Linked DNA regions of Homo sapiens. The main gene of each other region encodes a partner of the protein of the gene in region 2 in a complex. Each region holds a gene or a part of one and is shown on either strand. Other genes may lie near its edges. The genes, in order: RNASEH2C and RNASEH2A. A codon is read from its position in the direction of its gene.

Region 1 (11,407 bases), on a different chromosome or scaffold from region 2:
CTCTGACCTGAGAAACAAGGAGGAAGTTCTAGCTGTTGACCTGGTGAAGACACAGAGGCTTTACCTGATCAAGGTTATGGTCCATTCGAGAAATTTTATTGGTTAAATGATGCCCAGATGGGGTCACATCCTCAGAACTTCTCAGCCTGGTAGCACAAGTGGATGCTTGAAGAAACTCAGTCTTGGAACTCAGACAGCAATGGAGACGGGATGTGAGTGGGACCAGCAAGGGGCTAAGGTCCATTATGAGGGTGAGGAAGGGCTTCTAGAAGTAACAAACATCCCAGGTCCCTGACTGGGGAGAATGAAGACACTGACCAAGAGATGTGAAGCCACTCAGGGCTGTGCAGGGTCTGAGGATCTCACTGGGGACGGCCTCCCAGCGGCCAGCTATCAGCACGAGTTGGAGGGAAAGAGCCATGGTGGGGGTCAGTCACGTGGCTCCCAGGAATGGTCTCCCCGACTTAGGAAGCACCTTGGTGCACCTTTTCTCCTTGCATCCTCACAACCACCCAGTCAGGCCACTCAAGTCTTACAGCAGGTGACACTCCCAAGGTCCCAGCTAGGAGGACTTTGAGAATTCAAGCATTCTCAGGTCTGGATTAGAGACAGGAATCTGTCTCCACTTCCTTACATGGCTAGACACAGAGCCCGGGATGGCAAAGGAAAATTGGAGGCCCCTTCTTCCCATGAGCCATTTTCTCTGCATCCCCTGCCCATAAGCCTTCACTGGCCTCTGATCACCCTCATGGTTGACTGCAGCTGCTCCTCTCAGTGCCCTCATGCCCTCCACTGTGCTCAGCGCACGGAAAGAGTGAATACTCAGTTCTTCCTGAGGGAACTGAGGCACAGAGAAGTGGAGGGCATAGAACTGCCAAGTGGCAGGGCCATGATAGGAACTAGGCAGCCTGCCTTGGCAACCTGTGTTTTTAAATGTTGCTTATGTTCATCTGTGACCTCTTACTCACCCTCTCCTGCTCCATTGCTTTAGGCTATGAACTCTCCAAAGTGGAAGGGAAAACAGGGACCCCTGAGAAGCCCCTCTCAGACCTTGGCCTCCTATCCTATCGAAGCTACTGGTCCCAGACCATCCTGGAGATCCTGATGGGGCTGAAGTCGGAGAGCGGGGAGAGGCCACAGATCACCATCAAGTGAGCCTGGCGCTGTCTACCTGGGGGTACATGGCATGGCTTGTCTGTTCCTGGGCTTTCTCTCTCAGGGCTCCTGGGGACAGATAAAGGTCCTCAGGGAACCTGACCTGTGCTCTCCCACAGTGAGATTAGTGAAATCACCAGCATCAAGAAGGAGGATGTCATCTCCACTCTGCAGTACCTCAATCTCATCAACTACTACAAGGTAGGGAGGCAGGCAGGGGAGACAGGTGTGTGGGATGCAGAGTGCAGTCCTCTGTGGGCTGACCACCTGCTGAACCCATCTCCTCTGCCCAGGGCCAGTACATCCTCACACTGTCAGAGGACATCGTGGATGGCCATGAGCGGGCCATGCTCAAGCGGCTCCTGCGGATCGACTCCAAGTGTCTGCACTTCACTCCCAAGGACTGGAGCAAGAGGGGGAAGTGGTGACCAGACACTGCCCACTGCAGTGCCAAGACGGCAGCAGGACTGGGGCTGATAGCCCACCCCGCCCCCACTGCAGCTCCCACAAAGCACTCTAAGGGAGATGGGGCTGAGGACAGCTCAAAAAGGAGAGGACAGGCCTGGCAGGGGCCCACTGGTGCCCAGCACCAAGGCGAGCTCCGGGCTCAGACCAACTCCAAGGTCAGCTGGCCACAGGCCCAGGCCTCCTCTGAAGCAGGGACCAGAGGGAGCCAGGCAGCTGTGTACAGTGAGAAGGGATCCGGATGGGGGAGCTCTGTACAGAGGGCTGGTGATTGTAAAAATTTCTTTTGTAAAGTAGAAGTTGGGGGTGGGGTGGGTGCTGGCTGCAAAAATTTCTGGCTTCTCTTACCCCTATTGCCCCCGGCAATAAATTGTTTCTATATGCCAGAGCCATGCAAAGTTCTTGGTGGGGAGGGGGAAAGGGCCCATGCTGGCTTAGGGGCTCTAAGGCGCCCAGACTCACAGGTGCTGTGAAGAGCTCCTTTATTGGGGTGATGGAATCGGTTCCAAAGAGCTGGTTTACTGCTGTGAAGGGATCGCAGCTTTGAATTTCAAGCTCTGGTTCTCAGTCCTCGGGCACCTGTGCGTGAATCTGCAACAGGAGTCGCCTCTACTGTTGGACTTGTAAGACAGGGCGGCAAGCTGGCCCCCATACCCGAGGAAGGACCCAGCTGTTCAGAATAACCGCTTCTAGACATGCTAGGAAGAGTGGTCAGGGAGCTACGCTTCCCACACACTACCCAGTAGAATCCTCCAGGCTCCGTCTGCGCAATTGTGCTCCCCAGCCCATCCACCCGGGGGCAAGACGGAACTCCTCGTCTACTCACCGCTGCCGCAAGGCTGGGCCAAGTTAAGGCCCCACGCACTTTGGCATCCGGGCCAGGGATGGTCTCCAGACCCCACAGGGTGAAGCGGCTGAAGTTGGCAGTGGCTCCAATGAAGCGGTCCTGGGGAAGGGGCCTGGCTCAGCATCGGGACTACAGCTCCCGCCCGCACCCCCTTTCAACCCTATCCCTTTGCTCACGAAGTCCCGCTCCAGCGGCTCCTCCTCTTGGTCGTCAGTCCCGGAATCCCGCAAGGGGTCTGGCTTCCCCATCGACACCTTCTTCTCTTCTGTCACCATCACGTATCCCACGAGGCCAGGCGGCACCGCCACCTCCTCTCCCCGTAGACAGCGGCCCCGAAACGACACTTCGAGTCCTGGAGCGGGAGGCGCAAAGGGCCTCAGGCAGGACCCACGCTGGGTCGAGCCCGGAGCTGCCCTCCCGCCACCTCCGGACGGACCACGATCCCCAGGAGCCCAGGCGATGAGAAGCGCGCAGGCCGGCGCGGGGGCTGCCGGGAGCCGTAGTCCGGCCGCAGGGCTCACCCTCGGGGCCCTGGCGGATGGCGGGCGTGAAGAAGCGCCCCACCGGGGCGGGCCCGTCCACCGCAACCTCGCAGGGCAGCAGATGCAGTGTGGCGGGTACGGCGTCGCGCAATGTGGCGGAGCGCAAGTGGACGCGGTGCCTCTCGATGGCCGCTTCGTCGCCGCTCTCCATCCTCCCTCCTACGCGACGCCAGGGCTCGCGAGCTGACACTGAAGCTGGCGCGGAAAGCGCGCAGGACCTCTCAGGAAGCCTCCGCGGGGCCTCACGGGAAGCCGCCGCGGAGCTTCACGGGAAGTGTAGTCCCCTTACCCCCTAACGCTTTCCCTGGGTTCAAGTCCTAGGGTTTTCCAGTTGTGTTTTGTTTTTTTCCTTCCTTCCTTCCCCCCTCCCCTCTTTCCTCCCTCCCCTCTCCCCCTCTCCTTCCCCCTCCCCCCTCCTTCCCCCTCCCCCCTCCCCCTCCTCCCTGCCTCCCTTCCTTCCCCCCTTCCCTTCCCTTCCTTCCCGTCCTTCCCTCTTTCTTTCTTTTTCTTATTTATTATTATTTTTTTTTGACAGAGTCTCGTTTTGTCGCCCAGGCTGGAGTGCCAGGCACGGTCTCAGCTCACTGCAACCTCCGCCTCCCGGGTTCAAGCGATTCTCCTGCCTCAGCCTCCGGAGTAGCTGGGATTACAGGCGCACACCACCATGCCCACCTAATTTTTGTATTTTTAGTAGAGACTGGGTTTCGCCATGTTGGCCAGGCTGGTCTCGAACTCCTGACCTCAGGCGATCCTCCAGCCTCGGCCTTCTGAAGTACTTGGATTACAGGCGTGAGACACCGCCCCCAGCCGGGTTTTTTTCTTTTATTGTTTTTAATGGCACATGTCGTTGTAAAAATCTAAAACGATTCTGAAAAGTACTCTTTTTATATTGATTAGTAGGTAGGTTATTCATTTTTAGTTTATTAGGGACATCAACCCTTTTCTTAAATGCATTGAAAATGTTTTATCTGTGGTCTGTCTTGCAAACCTGTGTAAAGGTGATTTTTGCTGGACAAGGACTTATTTTTGTGGTTGTTTGGTCTTTTAGACAAGGTCTCACTCGCCTAGGCTGGAGTGCAGTGGTTTGATTGGCTCACTGCAGCCTCGACCTCCCAGGCTTAATCCATCCCCCATCCTCAGCTTCCTGTGTAGCTGGAACCACAGGCCTGCGCCACCACGCAGCTAATTTTTGTATTTTTGGTAGAGGTGGAGTTTTGCCATGTTGCCCAGGCTGGTCTTGAACTCCTGGACTCAAGTGATCTGCCCACCTTGGCCTCCCAAATCACGCTGGAATTACAGGCGTGAGCCACTGCACCCAGGACAAAGACTAATTTTTTGTAGTCAAATTTATCAACACTTTTCAGTCTTTTAGATTTCACAATTTTCTCTCTTTGGTTTCTCAGCTCTTCTCTAATGTTTATTTGTTCAGACACCCAACTTAGATATATTTTTTCAAGTTCTCACATAAAACAAACACAAAACTGGAAATTTAGATTTAAATTGCGTTTAATTTATACATCCCTGCACATCTGGGAGCTGGCCTTGGTATTCTGTTGAATATAAACAATTTCAGAGAACATCAGCATCGGACAAGGTCACTCTGTGACCGTGAGGGAGCAAGACAGAAACAGAACCACTCCATCGTCACATCTGAATGCTGGCAAAGGTGAACACTGTCCAAACCACAAAAGGCATGAAACATCCCTCTTTCTCCCATAAGAGAGTGACTGTTGTTTCCTTACCAATTACAGCATTAGCCTCCAACTAATCTTCTCTCCTTCTGGGCAAGACTCATTAAGATAGTCCGTCATAGACATACCCCCACCTCTGACAGCATCCAAGCCAGAGAGAAGCCTGGCTTCCCTAAACCCTGACTGAAATCACTGAACATGGGCACAAATCCTCCTATAAGTCCTTTCTAGCACCCTCTTATTGAAATTCCCCAGAGTGCAGGAGTAATATACCCAATTTGTTCAACTGCAGATGTATTCCTGGTGCTCTTTCACTAGAGTGGCAGATTAATTTAGAAAAAGGCTTGCTTTAGTTTTCTATCAGGAAAGACATAATTCAATTTATTCACATCTCCTTGGATATCTGTACAGTTGTGAGGTTTTGTTCATATATAATAGCTATTAATACATATTGTAAAGTTTATTTCTTCTTAGCTTATATTAATAATTGTTTCTATTAAGAACTGAGGGGCTGGGCATGATGATTCACACCTGTAATTCCAGTGCTTTAGGAGGCCAAGATGGGGGAGGATTGCTTGAAGCCAGGAGTTTGAGACCGGCCTGGGAAACATAGCAAGACTCCGTTCCTACAAAGAAAAAAATTTTTTTAAACATGAGTGGGGCACAGTGGCATGTGCCTGTAGTCCCAGCTACTCAAGAAGCTAAGGTGGGAAGATCACTTAAGCCAAGGAGTTTGAGGCTGCCGTTCGAGTCACGATTGCACCACTGCACACCAGCCTGGGTTACGGAGGGAGACCCTTTCTCTAAAAACCAAAATTGGGGCTTTTATTTTTTTCATTTTATTTTCTAACTGATTTTCTTTTTAATCTATAGCAGGGGTTGGCAAACTTTTTCTGTAAGGGGTCAAATAGTAAATATTTTAGGTTTTGTGGACTTTATGGCTTCTGTCGCAGCTACTCAACTTCACCGTTATAGCATGAAAGCAGTCATAGACAATACATAAATGAATGAGCGTTGTTGTGTTCCAGTAAATCTTTGCAGAAACAGACAAGGGGTTGGATTTGAACCACAGGCCATAGTTTTCAGACCCCTTGTCTATAGCAAACCTGTTGATTTTTATATGTCCATTTTTAAACTAGATATCGACTGAATTATTTTGTTCCTAATGATTTTTATTTTATTTTAAGATCCCCAGAATTAGTCACCTCTCTTTCAAATAATAATTTTTACCTCACCATTACATCTTCTTTTTGTTTTTTGTTTTTTGTTTTTTTTTTTTCATTACACCTTGTAATTTGTTTTCTTTTCTAATTGCCTTGGCCAGTACTTGCAGAACAGTCTCTCAAATGTTACTGGTATCAGAGGACAACATTGTCTTTTTCCTGAAACTTTCACGGGAGTGCTTCTGCTGTTTCACCAATAATCATGAAACTGCCTTTTGACTTGTTATATATGTCTCATTAAAGCTGTACTACTAAGAGCTTTTAAAAATTGGGAGTAGATGTTGGATCTTATTTTTTATTTTTATGTTTTTGGTTTTGCAAGTTTCCTGTAGTCTGGATATTAGTAATTGCATTCCTATAGTGTCAAGGTAATCTATACCTGTATTTTCTGTAATTACATCTAGAAGCTTAATTCGATTCTTTGGGGAGGGGAGAGGGCAAGACTACTTCATGGGTGGTTTTGTGTTTTTCCCTCTTTTTGTGAGGTTAGCAGCCATAGATGATCATTGCCTAGATCCTTTAATTCATTAGAGGTTAAAACGCGTGTGTACGCGCACACACACACACACACACACATATTTTTGGGACAGAGTCTCACCTGGTAGCCCAGGCTGGAGCGCGGTGGCGCGATCTTGGCTCACTCAGCTCAACCTCTGTCTCCCGGGTTCAAGCAATTCTCCTGCCTTGGCCTCCTGAGTAGCTGGGATTACAGGCGCATGCCACCATGCCAGGCTAATTTTTGTATTTTTAGTAGAGATGGGGTTTTACCATGTTGGCCAGGCTGGTCTCCAAATCCTTACCTCAAGTGATCTGCTCCCCTCCCTTGGGCTCCCAAAGTGCTGGGATCACAGGCGTGAGGCATGGTGCCCAGCCTAAAACTGATATTCTAAGTCCTCTCATTTCTTCTTCATTTACTAGCTGAAATAGGTCTATAAAGAAAAACTCTCCCCATCAGCCATTTGATTGCCTGTTGGTACAGTGAGGATAAGAAAGACAAAATAATTAGGCCGGGCACAGTGGCTCACACCTGTAATCCCAGCACTTTGGGAAGCTGAGGTGGGTGGATCACTTGAGGTCAGGAGTTCGGGACCAGCCTGGCCAACACGGTGAAACCTTATCTCTACTAAAAAATACAAAAATTAGCCGGGCGTGGTGGCGCATGCCTGTAATCCCAGCTACTCAGGAGGCTGAGGCAGGAGAACTGCTTGAACCCGGGAGGTGGAGGTTGCAGTGAACTGAGATCGAGCCACTGCACTCCAGCCTGGGTGACAGAGCGAGACTGCATCTCAAAAAAATCCTTTTATTTTCCAGTTCTTAAAATAATGATTTGTTGCCCTAGCATATTCCAATGGTGACCTTTTAAAAATGTTAAATAAATATTAAATAAATAAATATAAATAAAAATAATAAATAATGGATTAACACTTTTATGTTTCACATAATTGTGGTTATTATTCTTACTGAGGTGCAAATTTCCCCATCTTCTGCCAGTGGAAGCCTCTTCAAGTTATCTCCTGAATCTTTCGATATGACCCTAGTGATCTTTTATACATATCTTTGTTTTCCAGTACCACAAGATGTTCCTGGCTCATCTTGTACATTTCCTGCCCCAGACTTGGAATTATACATCTCTCCAAAGATCGCTGGTTCCCTTCAGTGGGAAATGATATTTAGTAATCCAATCTGATACTAGATGTATTCATTGCTACTGAGTTAGCCTTTGTTTCTAGATATTTCCAGTGGACAAAGCTAGGAAATACGCATTTTTTTCCTCTCCTTTTTTTTTTTTTTTTTTTTGAGACAGAGTCCGCTCTGTCAGCCAGGCTGGAGTGCAGTGGCACAATCTCGGCTCACTGCAACCTCCGTCTCCTGGGCTCAAGCAATTCTCCTGATTCTCCTGCCTCAGCCTCCCGAGTAGCTGGGATTACAGGCGCCCACCACCATGCCCGGCTGATTTTTTTATATTTATTTATTTATTTTTGAGACGCAGTCTCACTCTGTCAGCCAGGTTGGAGTGCAATGGTGAGATCTCGGCTCACTGCAACCTCTGCCTCCCAGGTTCAAGCAATTCTCCTGCCTCAGCCTCCCGAGTAGCTGGGACTACAGGCGCCCGCCACCACGCCCGGCTAATTCTTTGTGTGTTTAGTAGAGACGGGGTTTCACCGTGTTCGCCAGGATGGTCTCGATCTCCTGACCTCGTGATCCGCCCGCCTTGGCCTCCCAAAGTGCTGGGATTACAGGCGTGAGCCACCGCGCCCGGCCAGGAGGCTTAGTCTTAATAAAAACTTGGAAAGAAAGATTCCCCTGAGGATCAATTACAACCGAAATGACAGAGCCCCTATCAGGTGTTGTTGAGTATCCCCTCTGCTGCTAAACTTCAGGGAATAACTTGTTGGGTACACCTGTCTAGGATTAAACCTGTTTCTTATGAGTCACAGGCACAAAAGCAGGATACCACGACCTACATCTGTGAACCTTTGGAGGACCTCTGCTACCTATTTAAAAGAATCAATATTCAGCCATAAGTGGTAACGTGACGCCGTGGGTGGGAACATTTTTCTCTTCTTCCTGATTGTAATACTTCTTTTCTGTCGCTTTGGGCAACTACCTCCTCCCAGGAAACATCTCTTGTCCTTGTTGGGTGTAGAGGCCACTCTAAGGCCCAGGTGGATACCATGTGCCACTGTTAATCCTGTTGCTCTCCCAATTAACCTAATCCTGTGTAAGTGGGAACAAAACTTTATAGTAAATATTTCAAAAATTATAGCTTTAGGAAATCATCTTCATGGTTGCTGGATTTGTCATCAACATCCCCAGGATAGAGAATTTCACCTTCTGGCCGATCCAAAAACTCTCTTGGCTAACTCCCTAGCCCTCTTCACCATCCATAGCAATCTCAAAGTACCCAGACCCCGACCATTAGGTGGAAATTTCTGTCGTGCACTTGATGGATTCTACCTGAAATCCCCCACCACTATTGCCTGGACCTGGGAAGGCGTATGTCTAGATCTCCAGGGCACTCATGATTCTATCAAGGCATGTATCTAGATCTCTAGGGCACTCATGATTCTGTCAAGGCGTGTATCTAGATCTCCAGGGCACTAATGATTCTATCTTTTGCAACCACTGTTGTGTTAATGACACAAAAGTGGAAGTTTCCCCACAATGCTGTGACCCAACTGTAGTTGCCAAGTTCCCAAGGCCACAGCAAGATAAATAAGATTCCACTTGTGAGCAAGGAGACCATATACAGTGCCTTCTCCCAGAGCAGAACATACAGAGAAAAAAACAACTGCCTAATCTGGGAAGGTGAGATTACCGCCCCCTTCTGGAAAACAAGGGCTGACCTAGAGGAAGCTTCTCCATCCTTGAATCTACATCTGGTTCGGCCTGCCTACCTCCACTCCTGCCTCCATCGTGTCCATCACGGTGACCCAGAAGCCCTACAAGGCATCCATCTCTGGCCCCTGGGCCTTCAGCAGCCGCTCCTACACCAGTGGTCCCGGTGCCCACATCAGCTCCTTGAGCTTCTCCCAAGTGGGCAGCAGCAGCAGCTTCTGGAGTGGCCTAGGCACCAGCATGAGTCTGGGTGGTGGCTATGGTGGGGCAGTGGTATGGGGTGGGGGTGGGCGACACAGCCATCATGGTGAACCAGAGTCTGCTGAGCCCCCTTAAGCTGGACCTGGACCCCAATATCCAGGCTGTGCATACCCAGGAGAAGGAGCAGATCAAGACCCTCAACAAGTTTGCCTCCTTCATCGACAAGGTGCAGTTCCTGGAGCAGCAGAACAAATGCTGGAGACTAAGTGGAGCATCCTGCAGCAGCAGAAGACAGCTGGGAGCAACATGGACAGCGTGTTTGAGAGCCACATCCACAGCCTTGGGCAGCAGCTGGACACTGGGCCAGGAGAAGCTGAAGGTGGAGGCAGATCTTGGCAACACGCAGGGGCTGCTGGAAGACTTCAACGATAAGTACCAGGATGAGATCAACGAGCGGACAGAGATGGGGAATGAATTTGCCTTCATCGAGAAGGATGTGGATGGAGCTTACATGAACAAGGCAGTGCTGGAGTCTCACCTGGAAGGGCTGACTGACAAGATCAACTTCCCCAGAGAGCTGTGTGAAGAGGAGATCTGGAAGCTGCAGTCCCAGATCTCGGACACGTCTGTGTGCTGTCCATGGACAACAGCCACTCCCTGGACGTGGATGGCATCATCGCGGAGGTCAACGCCCAGTACGAGGAGATCGCCCACTGCGGCCAGGCAAGGCTAAGAGTCTGCACCAGGTCAAGGATGAGGAGTTGCAGACACTGGCTGGGAAGCACGGGGATGACCTGCGTCGCGGGAAGATGGAGAACTCTGAGATGATCCGCAACATCAGCGGGGTCCATGCTGAGATTGAGGGCCTCAGAGGCCATCGCGGATGCTGAGCAGCGTGGGGAGCTGGTGGAGCTGGAGGCTGCCCTGTAGCAGGCCAAGCAGGACCTGGCGCCGGCCAAGCAGGACCTGGCGCCGCAGCTGCTTAAGTAGACAGCTGAGCTCGGCCTCCCGGGGCCTCACAAGCCCTGGCCTCAGCTACGGCCTGGGCCCCAGCCTTGACTCTGGCAGGGATTTCAGCTCCTTCAGCCGCACCAGCTCCTCCAGGACCATGGTTGGGAAGCTGGTGTCCGAGTCCTCTGATGTCCTGCCCAAGCGAACAACTATGGCAGTCCCTCCCAGCCTACCCCCTCTTGCAGCTGCCCCAGAGCTTGTGGGGGAGGCTGCTGTGCAGGAAAGCGCAGGGAACAGGAGACCCACTTGAGGCTCAGCCCTCCTCCACAGCCCACTTGTGTGGGGTAACTCCCTTGCCCATGCCTCCATCACAAAACAATTCCACTGTTTTGTTTTGTTTTGTTTTGTTTTTTCAAGATAAAGCCTCAGCTAGCTCTGTCAACTGTCAAAAAGCAAAAAACAAACAAAACCCAGAAAACCCTACCAGGGTTGTTTGGTCCTCCCCGTTGGAATGGGGGGAGATATCTTGTATCTCCACAGACCCAACTTAGTGGCTAAAGATAGGCATCACACCTCACAGGGCCTCTATTGCACCCCAAATGGGTTCGTTTTCATTTGTGGTCATAAGTGGGAAGAAGTCACATCCCATAACCACTCCTAACTCCCCAGAGGACCTCCTGTTCTTTTAGGAGTAGCTTTCCTTTGTATATCAAAAACTTGGAACAGGGGTGAGTGTATGTTGGCCACCCTTTGGCCTTCCGGGGGTCACCATATAAAACCCTGTAAGACCGAGGAATACCAGAAATGAATGATCAATAGGATTAATTCTGACATGAACTGGAGTGGCATTAGAACTAGTGGCCCCCTGGGGTGGCTTTGCCTACCATGAGTTGGCCCTAAAGAACTGACTCAAACCCTGGAATCATTAGCCACCAACACAGGTCAGGCATTAAAAGGAATTCAGGGATTCCTAGACTCTTTGGCAAATGTAGT
Region 2 (7,863 bases):
AGAACCAAAGAAAGAAGGGAGAACATTTGAGAAGCTTCCATCCCAACCTGCCCCAAATCACTGGTGGGCTTATCTGTGCCTTCTAGGTCCTTCTGGAGAGAATGCAGCTTGTTCCAAACATTAATGCGCAGATATGCTTTTTTTTTTGAGACATGGTCTTGCTCTGTCGCCCATGCTGGAGCCTACCTCAACCTCCAGAAAAGCTGGGACTGCAGCCACACGGCACCCTGCCCGCCAAGATTTTTGTTTGGTTCGTGACCTTTCTTTATTTTTTCTTATCTTCCCCCATGCAGCCCAGCATTTTTTTTTTTTTTTTTTTTTTTTTGAGACAGAGTTTCGCTCTTGTTACCCTATGTTGTCCAGACTGGTCAAGATCCTCCTGACTCAGCCTTCCAAAGCACTAGGATTACATGTATGAGCCCCTGCGCCCAGCCACATCATGTATTTTACATATTAGTCAGCCAGGTATGGTAGCTCACACATTGAGAGGTCACAGCGGGCAGATCACTTGAACCCAGGACTACAAGACCAGCCTGGGCGACATGATGAAACCTCATCTCTACAAAAAATACAAAAATTAGTTGGGCATCGTGGCGTGTGCCTGGAACCTCAGCTACTCAGGAGGTTAAGGTGGGAGAATCACTTAAACCCAGGAGGCGGAGGTTACACTGAGCTGAGATCGCACCACTGCACTCCAGCCTGGGTGACAGAGTGAGATTCTGTCTCAAAAAATTTTTTAAATAAAAATAGGCAATGCATGGCGGCTCACGCCTGTAATCCCAGCACTTTGGGAGGCTGAAGCAGACGGATCACAAGGTCAGAAGATTGAGACCATCATGGCTAACACGGTGAAACCGTGTTTCTACTAAAAATACAAAAAATTAGCCAGGCCTGGTGGCACGCACCTGTAGTCCCAGCTACTCGGGAGGCTGAGGCAGGAGAATCATTTGAACCTGGGAGGCAGAGGTTACAGTGAGCTAAGATTGAGCCAATGCACTCCAGCCTGGGTGACAGAGCGAGACTCCATCTCAAGAAAGAAAATTTAAAAATTTTTAAAAATTAAAAATATAACTAAAAAGGTCGGTGCAGTGGCTCATGCCTGTAATCCCAGCACTTTGAGAGGCTGAGGTGGGCAGATCACCTGAGGTCAGGAGGTAGAGAGCAGCCTGACTAACATATAGTGAAACCTTGTCTCTACTAAAAAATACAAAAATTAGGCCAGGCGCAGTGGCTCACACCTGTAATCCCAGCACTTTGAGAGGCCAAGGCGGGCAGATTGCCTGAGGTCAGCAGTTTAAGACCAGTCTGGCCAACGTGGTGAAACCCCGTCTCTACTAAAAATACAAAAATTAGCTGAGTGTGGTGGCGCATGCCTGTAGTCACAGCTACGTGGGAGGCTGAGGCAGGAGAATCGCTTGAACCCAGGAGGCAGAGGTTGCAGTGAGCCAAAATTGCATCACTGCACTCCAGCCTGGTGACAAAGTGAGACTCTGTCTCAAATTAAAAAAAAAAGAAAGAAAGAAAAGAAAAGAAAATTAGCCGGGTGTGGTGGTGTGCACCTGTAATCCCAGCTACTCAGGAGGCTGAGGCAGGGGAATTGCTTGAACCAGGGAGGTGGAGGTTGCAGTGAGCCAAGATTGTGCCATGGTACTCCAGCCTGGGCAACAGGAGACTGTGTCTCAAAAAAAAAAAAAAATTAGTTGGGCATGGCACACGCCTATAGTCCCAGCTGCTTGGGAAATTGAGGCAGGAGAATCGCTTGAACCTGGAAGGCAGAGGTTGCAGTGAGCTGAGATTGCCCCATTCTACTCCAGCCTGGGTGACAGAGTGAGACTTCGTCTCTCAAAAAAATAAAATAAAATAAAATAAAATAAATAAAATTTAAAAATGAAAAAAATCAAACCAAATAAAATTAATCAACCAACACCCATTCTATTTAAGGTTCCAAAAGGAAGTAGCTGGACCCGGCTGCAGAGCACACTCCCACCTTGCTTCTGTCCCAAAAGTACATCCCCTACGTGTGGTTCTCCTTAAACAATTTTAATGTCTGGGTTGGGGAAGCAGGTAGAGCGCGTAGAGGCAGCTGCTAGAGGCTGGTTGCTGACTCCAGGCCGCGTTCCAGGAAATATCGGTGGGAAGAACGGGGACGGGCTTGGGACCCTTCATTGAGGAAGTAGGATGTGATCTTCCTGAGTCCCTCCTGATTCTCGGATGCTGAGTCCTCCCTGTGGGAGAGAGGTGATGACAGTGACCACTTACACAGGGAGCAACCCTCTCAGGCAGGGCTGAACGCTGGCCTCCCTCCTTCCTTCCCTATAGCACCCCCAGGACATCCATGACACCCACCATATAACATCTTCCGCCTCTTTCTCCAGGATGGTCTGGGCCGTGCGCCAGCTGAACCGGACAAACTGGGGGAAGCCGAACACAGGCTCCACGTGCTCCTTCAACCACGCTTTTGTCTTGGGATCTGGGGTAGGGTGGGCAATGGTGACAGTCCAAGTTGCACCATAACATTCAAGCTCCCTGCCACTCTTTTTTTTTTCTTTGAGATGGAGTCCCACTCTGTAGCCAGGCTGGAGTGCAGTGGCGCGATCTCAGCTCACTGCAACCTCCACCTCCCGGATTCAAGCGATTCTCCTGCCTCAGCCTCCCAAGTAGCTGGGACTACAGGCGCATGCCACCATGCCCAGCTAAATTTTGTGTTTTTAGTAGTGACGAGGTTTCACCATGTTGGCCAGGATGGTCTCAATTGCTTGACCTCGTGATCTACCCCCCTCGGCCTCCCAAAGTGCTGGGATTACAGGCATGAGCCACCACGCCCGGCCTCCTTGCCGCTCTTCTAAGGCTTCCTCCTGAGTACCTGGGGCACCTCCTATGGTCTGAAGCACCTTCTTGCCACAGGACCTTTACCTGGCCAAGAGCTGCTAAAAGGGCAGTGCAGGGAGACTGCCTCTGAGACATCTCCTTGACCTCCAAGAACAAGTCATTAAACATTTTTATTTTATTTACTTATTTTTTGAAATGGAGTCTTGCTCTGTCACCCAGGCTGTAGTGCAATGGTGCGATCTCGGCTCACTGCAACCTCCGCCTCCCAGGTTCAAGCGATTCTCCTGCCTCAGCCTCCCAAGTAGCTGGGACTACAGCCACCCACCACCATACCTGGCTAATTTTTGTATTTTTAGTAGAGACGGGGTTTCACCATATTGGACAGGCAGGCTGGTCTCAAACTCCTGACCTCAGGTGATCCACCCACCTCAGCCTCCCAAAGTGCTGGGATTACAGGTGTAAACACCACACCCAGCCTTTTTATTTTTTTGAGATAGGGTCTCGCTCTATTACCCAGGCTGGAGTGCAGTGACATTATCACAGCTCAATGCAACCTCTGCCTCCCAGGCTCAAGCCATCCTCTCACCTCAGCCTCCCAAGTAGCTGGGACTACAGGTGCGCACCACCACACCTAATTTTTGTATTTTTTGTAGAGATGGGGTCTTGTCATATTGCCCAGGCTGGTTGTGAATTCCTGAGTTCACATGATCTACCTGCCTCTGTCTCTTAAAATGCTAGGATTACGGGCATGAGCCACCTGGCCCAGCCTGTCATTAAATATTATTATTATTATTATTATTATTATTTTGAGATGGAATTTTGCTCATTTCCCAGGCTGGAGTGCAATTATGCGATCTCGGCTCACTGCAACCTCCACCTCCCAGGTTTAAGTAATTCTCCTGCCTCAGCCTCCCGAGTTGCTGGGATTACGGGCGTGTGCCACCACGTCCAGCTAATTTTGTATTTTTAGTAGAGATGGGGTTTCACCACGTTGGTCAGGCTGGTCTAGAACTCCTGACCTCAAAGGATCCACCTGCCTCAGCCTCCCAAAGTCCTGGGATTACAGGTGTGAGCCACCACGCCTGGCTAACATTATTTTTTTTTTTGACACAAGATCTCATCTTGTCACCAAGGCTGGAGTGCAGTGGCATAATCATAGCTCACTGCAGCCTCCAACTCCTGGGCTCAAGCAACCCACCCACCTTAGCCTCCTCCTCCAGAGTAGCTGGGACTACAGGTGGGCACCACTATAACCGGCTAATTTTTTAAATTTTTTATAGAGATGGGGGTCTCGCTATGTTGCCCAGGCTGGTCTTGAACTCGAGGACTCAAGCGGTTCTCCTACCTCAGCTTCCCAAAGTGCTGGGATTACAGGCATGAGCCACCACGCCTGGTCCCCTTCCCCTTAACAAAGGGACAAATGCCCACCTTGGGTCTCAGTCCATCACTGGGGCTCCAGAAAGACAGCAAAGTGGGAAGCGGGGAAGACAGCAGCAATCCTATGGCCTGGAATTCAGCTCTATCACTCACTGGCTGTGTGGCCATAAACAAATGGCACCACTGTCTAACACTTGGCCTCTTTCACTGTGGAGTAGGGTGACCAGAGCAATTTAGAAAACCTCCAGCCAGGCACAGTAGTTCACACCTGTAATCCTAGCTATTTGGGAGTCCAAGGCAGGAGGATCACTTAAGCCCAGGAATTCAAGACCAGGCTGGGCAACATAGGGAGACCCCATCTCTTTAAAAAAAGAAGAAAAAAAGGGCCAGGGGTGGTGGCTCATGGCTGTAATCCCAGCACTTTGAAAGACCAAGGTGGGAGGACTGCTTGACTCCAGGAATTTGAGACCAGCCTGGGCAACATGACAAGACCCCATCTCTATAAAAACAAAAAATAGGCTGGGCACGGTGGCTCATGCCTGTAATCCCAGCACTTTGGGAGGCTGAGCCAGGCAGATCACCTGAGGTCAGGAGTTCAAGACCAGCCTGACCAACATGGAGAAAACTAGTCTCTACTAAAAACACAAAATTAGCTGGGTGTGGTGGCACATGCCTGTAATCCCAGCTACTCGCGAGGCTGAGGCAGGAGAATCGCTTGAAGCCAGGAGGTGGAGGTTGCGGTGAGCCGAGATCGCACCATTACACTCCAGCCTGGGCAAAAAGAGCGAAACTCCGTCTCAAAAAATAAACAAAAATAACAAATAAAAACAAAAAATAAGCAAAATAAAATGATAAATGACAGAAAGGAAAAAAAGAAAACCTCAGAAGTGTGCTCAGCCCTGGCCATTTCAACATTAGTACCATGGTCACGTGTCTGCTCACCATTGGGGTAGCCTGAGCCATAATCAGTATCCAAGTCCTGCAGTTTCTCCACGAACTGCCATTTCTTCACGGCCTGGTCCCGGGCCACCTGTGGGCAAAACAGGCACCTGGAATCTCCCTCCTTCCCTTTGGTGGCCATGCCTGGCCCCTATATAGTGGGATGGTGGAAGCCAGCCATGGCTAGTAGGGTACTGACCTTGGCACAGATGCTGGCAGCACTAACCACCGGGTAGAGGGCATCTGCTTTGGCCTTGACCGTCACCTCAATCCCGGGAAAACTTTGCTGCAGCCGCGCCTGGTATGTCTCTGGCATCCCTACGGTGTCCACGAATACCTGCCACAGCAACAGACACATATTAATTGAACAAACAACTGTACCAATGCTCTAGCCTCACAGCCCTGGCACGTTCTTCCTGCTACCCAGAATCCTCTTCTCCAGCACGTCCCCAGGATGGATCAATCAGGGATTTCAACTCGAACATCTCCTCCTAGACCAGGCAAAGTTGTTCAGGCCTGTGATCCCAGCACTTTGGGAGGCTGAGGCGGGAGGATCGCTTGATCCTGGGAGTTTGAGGCCAGGCTTGGCAACACAGTGAGACCCCATCTTTATAAAAACATAAAATAAATACAATAAAATAAAGAAAAAACTCACCTCCTGAAGAGGCTTTCTCTATCACGCTGCTTTTACTCTAACTTATTTAGCACCTACTGCATGCCACATACTGTTCTAGGAACTGAGGTGGCAGAAAACACTAGAAAAAAATTGGTAGAGTGCGTTAGCACAAGCCTGTAATCCCAACACTTTAGGAAGCCGAAGTGGGAGGATCGCTTGAGGGCAGGTGGTTGAGACCAACCTGGGCAACATATGGAGACCCTGTTTCTACAAAAAATAAAAAGTTAGCTAGGTGTAGTGGTGAATAAAGGCTTGAAGGAGGTGAGGAAGTGAACTGTGCAGAGATCTGGGGAAGAGGGCTCTAGGTGTGAGAACAGCCAGTACAAAGGCCCTGAGCTGGGACCAGGTTCATGATGCTGGGCCCATGCATGGGGGCCTTTGGCTGCAGCACCGAAGAGAGGGTCCAAGAGCTGCTGGGGGAAAGTGGTATCTCCACAGCACTACTGTTTTCAGAAACAACCTTTATTTTTTGTTTACCAGCTGACCATCTTTCATGTTTTATTTTTTTATTTTTTATTTTTAGTAGAGATGGGGTTTCACCATGTTGGTCAGGCTGGTCTCGAACTCCTGACCTGATGATCCGCCCGCCTCGGCCTCCCAAAGTGCTGGGATTACAGGCGTGAGCTACTGCGCCCAACCTCCAGCTGACCATCTTTCTGCCCAGGCTAGGCCCTGAACGCCTACGGGTAGGGCCCTTGTCTGTCTACACCAGTTACTGTATCGCCAGCTCTGCATTTGGGCCTGGTCCTCAGGTCCCTCCTCAGCAGGGTCTACCTTGCTATAATTCCTTTCTTTCTTCTTCTTTTTGTGGAGATGGAGTCTCGCTATGTTGCCCAGGCTGGTCTGGAACTCCTAGCCTCAACCAATTTGCTCACCTCAGCTTCCCAAAGTGCTGGGATTACAGGCGTGAGCCACCATACCCAGCATACAATTCCTACGTCAAGGTTATTTTGCCTTGTTATTCTCTCAGAACGGTCCATTCTTTCATTGAGAGCATTCGAGGCAATGCTGATTTATGTTTTTCTCTGGTAATTTAATGTAATTCTGCCCCACTCGACTGTGAATTTTCCTGATTTAATTTCCACTGTGATCGGAAAACTAAATGTCGAGATGTGCATTTCAAAAAGACTACCTTCTGTTGCTGCTTGGGGAACAGATTGGAGGGGATAGGAGGGTGAGGGACGAGAGACGACACTCAGCAGGTGTCCAGGGAGTGGGGGGTGTCCTGGGCTAGGACAGAGGTGACAGGTAGACAATGTAGGATTTGTTCTGGAGACTGAGCCTTTAGGATGAGGGAGAGATTAGATGGAGACGGGACTAGGGGCTACACTGTGGTCGTCAGTGTGGCACACATTTAGGGCAGAAACAGGAGCACGAAATCAACAGTAGCAATGAATATGCCCGAGGCACTCCAGACGTATCTGATGCTGAATCTGCACACTGCACATTTTTGCCCACATTTATTTTTTATTTTATTTTTATTTTTATTTTTCGCTCTGTCCCCCAGGCTGGAGTGCAATGGCGCGATCTCACCTCACTGCAACCTCCGCCTCCCGGGTTCGAGCAATTCTTCTGCCTCGGCCTCACCAATAGGTGGGATTACAGGCACCCGCCACCATGCTGGGCTAATTTTTTGTATTTTCAGTAGAGATGAGGTTTCACCATGTTGGCCAGGATGGTCTTCAACTCCTGACCTCAGGTGATCTGCCTGCCTCAGCCTCCTGAAACGCTGGGATTACAGCCGTGAGCCACTGCGCCTGGTCTCCCATTTTTAGTTTATTTTTTATTTTTTATTTTTTTGAGACAGGGTCTTGCTCTGTTGCCCGGGTTGGAGTGCAATGGCACAATCTTGGCTCACTGCAACTTCTGCCTCCTGGGTTCAAGCGATTCTCCTGTCTCAGCCTCCTGAGTAGCTAGGATTACAGGCGCCTGCCACCACGTCCAGCTAATTTTTGTATTTTTAGTAGAGACGGGGTTTCACCATGTTGGTCAGGCTGGTCTCGAACTCTTGACCTCCGGTGATCTACCCGCCGCGGCTTCCC

What was found.
Region 1: the proteins of RNASEH2A (region 2) and RNASEH2C are in contact, whole or in part, in a crystal structure (PDB 3PUF), measured with the Homo sapiens proteins. Residues at the interface, in NP_006388.2 of Homo sapiens: Thr11, Asn99, Ser102, Thr103, Leu106, Gly107, Arg108, Val109, Val196 (codon at 5,200), Glu197 (codon at 5,197), Lys198 (codon at 5,194), Leu199 (codon at 5,191), Glu225 (codon at 2,435), Pro226 (codon at 2,432), Val227 (codon at 2,429), Phe228 (codon at 2,426), Gly229 (codon at 2,423), Phe230 (codon at 2,420), Pro231 (codon at 2,417), Gln232 (codon at 2,414), Phe236 (codon at 2,402), Leu245 (codon at 2,375), Ala249 (codon at 2,363), Glu250 (codon at 2,360), Asp251 (codon at 2,357), Val252 (codon at 2,354), Ile253 (codon at 2,351), Trp254 (codon at 2,348), Glu255 (codon at 2,224), Asp256 (codon at 2,221); in NP_115569.2 of Homo sapiens: Pro33 (codon at 3,064), Cys34 (codon at 3,061), Glu35 (codon at 3,058), Val36 (codon at 3,055), Ala37 (codon at 3,052), Val38 (codon at 3,049), Ala42 (codon at 3,037), Pro43 (codon at 3,034), Val44 (codon at 3,031), Gly45 (codon at 3,028), Arg46 (codon at 3,025), Phe47 (codon at 3,022), Phe48 (codon at 3,019), Pro50 (codon at 3,013), Ala51 (codon at 3,010), Arg53 (codon at 3,004), Ser62 (codon at 2,808), Phe63 (codon at 2,805), Arg64 (codon at 2,802), Gly65 (codon at 2,799), Arg66 (codon at 2,796), Cys67 (codon at 2,793), Leu68 (codon at 2,790), Leu134 (codon at 2,515), Glu135 (codon at 2,512), Thr136 (codon at 2,509), Lys143 (codon at 2,488), Gly146 (codon at 2,479), Ala147 (codon at 2,476), Thr149 (codon at 2,470).

What each region holds. Positions count from the first base shown.
Region 1 is NC_000011.10:65,717,599-65,729,005, forward strand, and holds RNASEH2C (ribonuclease H2 subunit C), read right to left. Parts: upstream 3,201-11,407; 5' UTR 3,161-3,200; coding exon 2,989-3,160; intron 2,820-2,988; coding exon 2,644-2,819; intron 2,567-2,643; coding exon 2,447-2,566; intron 2,212-2,446; coding exon 2,185-2,211; 3' UTR 1,584-2,184; coding exon of another isoform or gene 1,449-1,583; 3' UTR 1,357-1,448; coding exon of another isoform or gene 1,275-1,356; 3' UTR 1,152-1,274; coding exon of another isoform or gene 992-1,151; 3' UTR 75-991; downstream 1-74. Other genes in the region: histone acetyltransferase KAT5, read left to right, coding at 992-1,151, 1,275-1,356, 1,449-1,583.
Region 2 is NC_000019.10:12,807,690-12,815,552, reverse strand, and holds the end of RNASEH2A (ribonuclease H2 subunit A), read right to left. Parts: intron 5,483-7,863; coding exon 5,345-5,482; intron 5,237-5,344; coding exon 5,149-5,236; intron 2,471-5,148; coding exon 2,347-2,470; intron 2,226-2,346; coding exon 2,087-2,225; 3' UTR 1,913-2,086; downstream 1-1,912. UniProt on the Homo sapiens protein: Catalytic subunit of RNase HII, an endonuclease that specifically degrades the RNA of RNA:DNA hybrids. Participates in DNA replication, possibly by mediating the removal of lagging-strand Okazaki fragment RNA primers during DNA replication.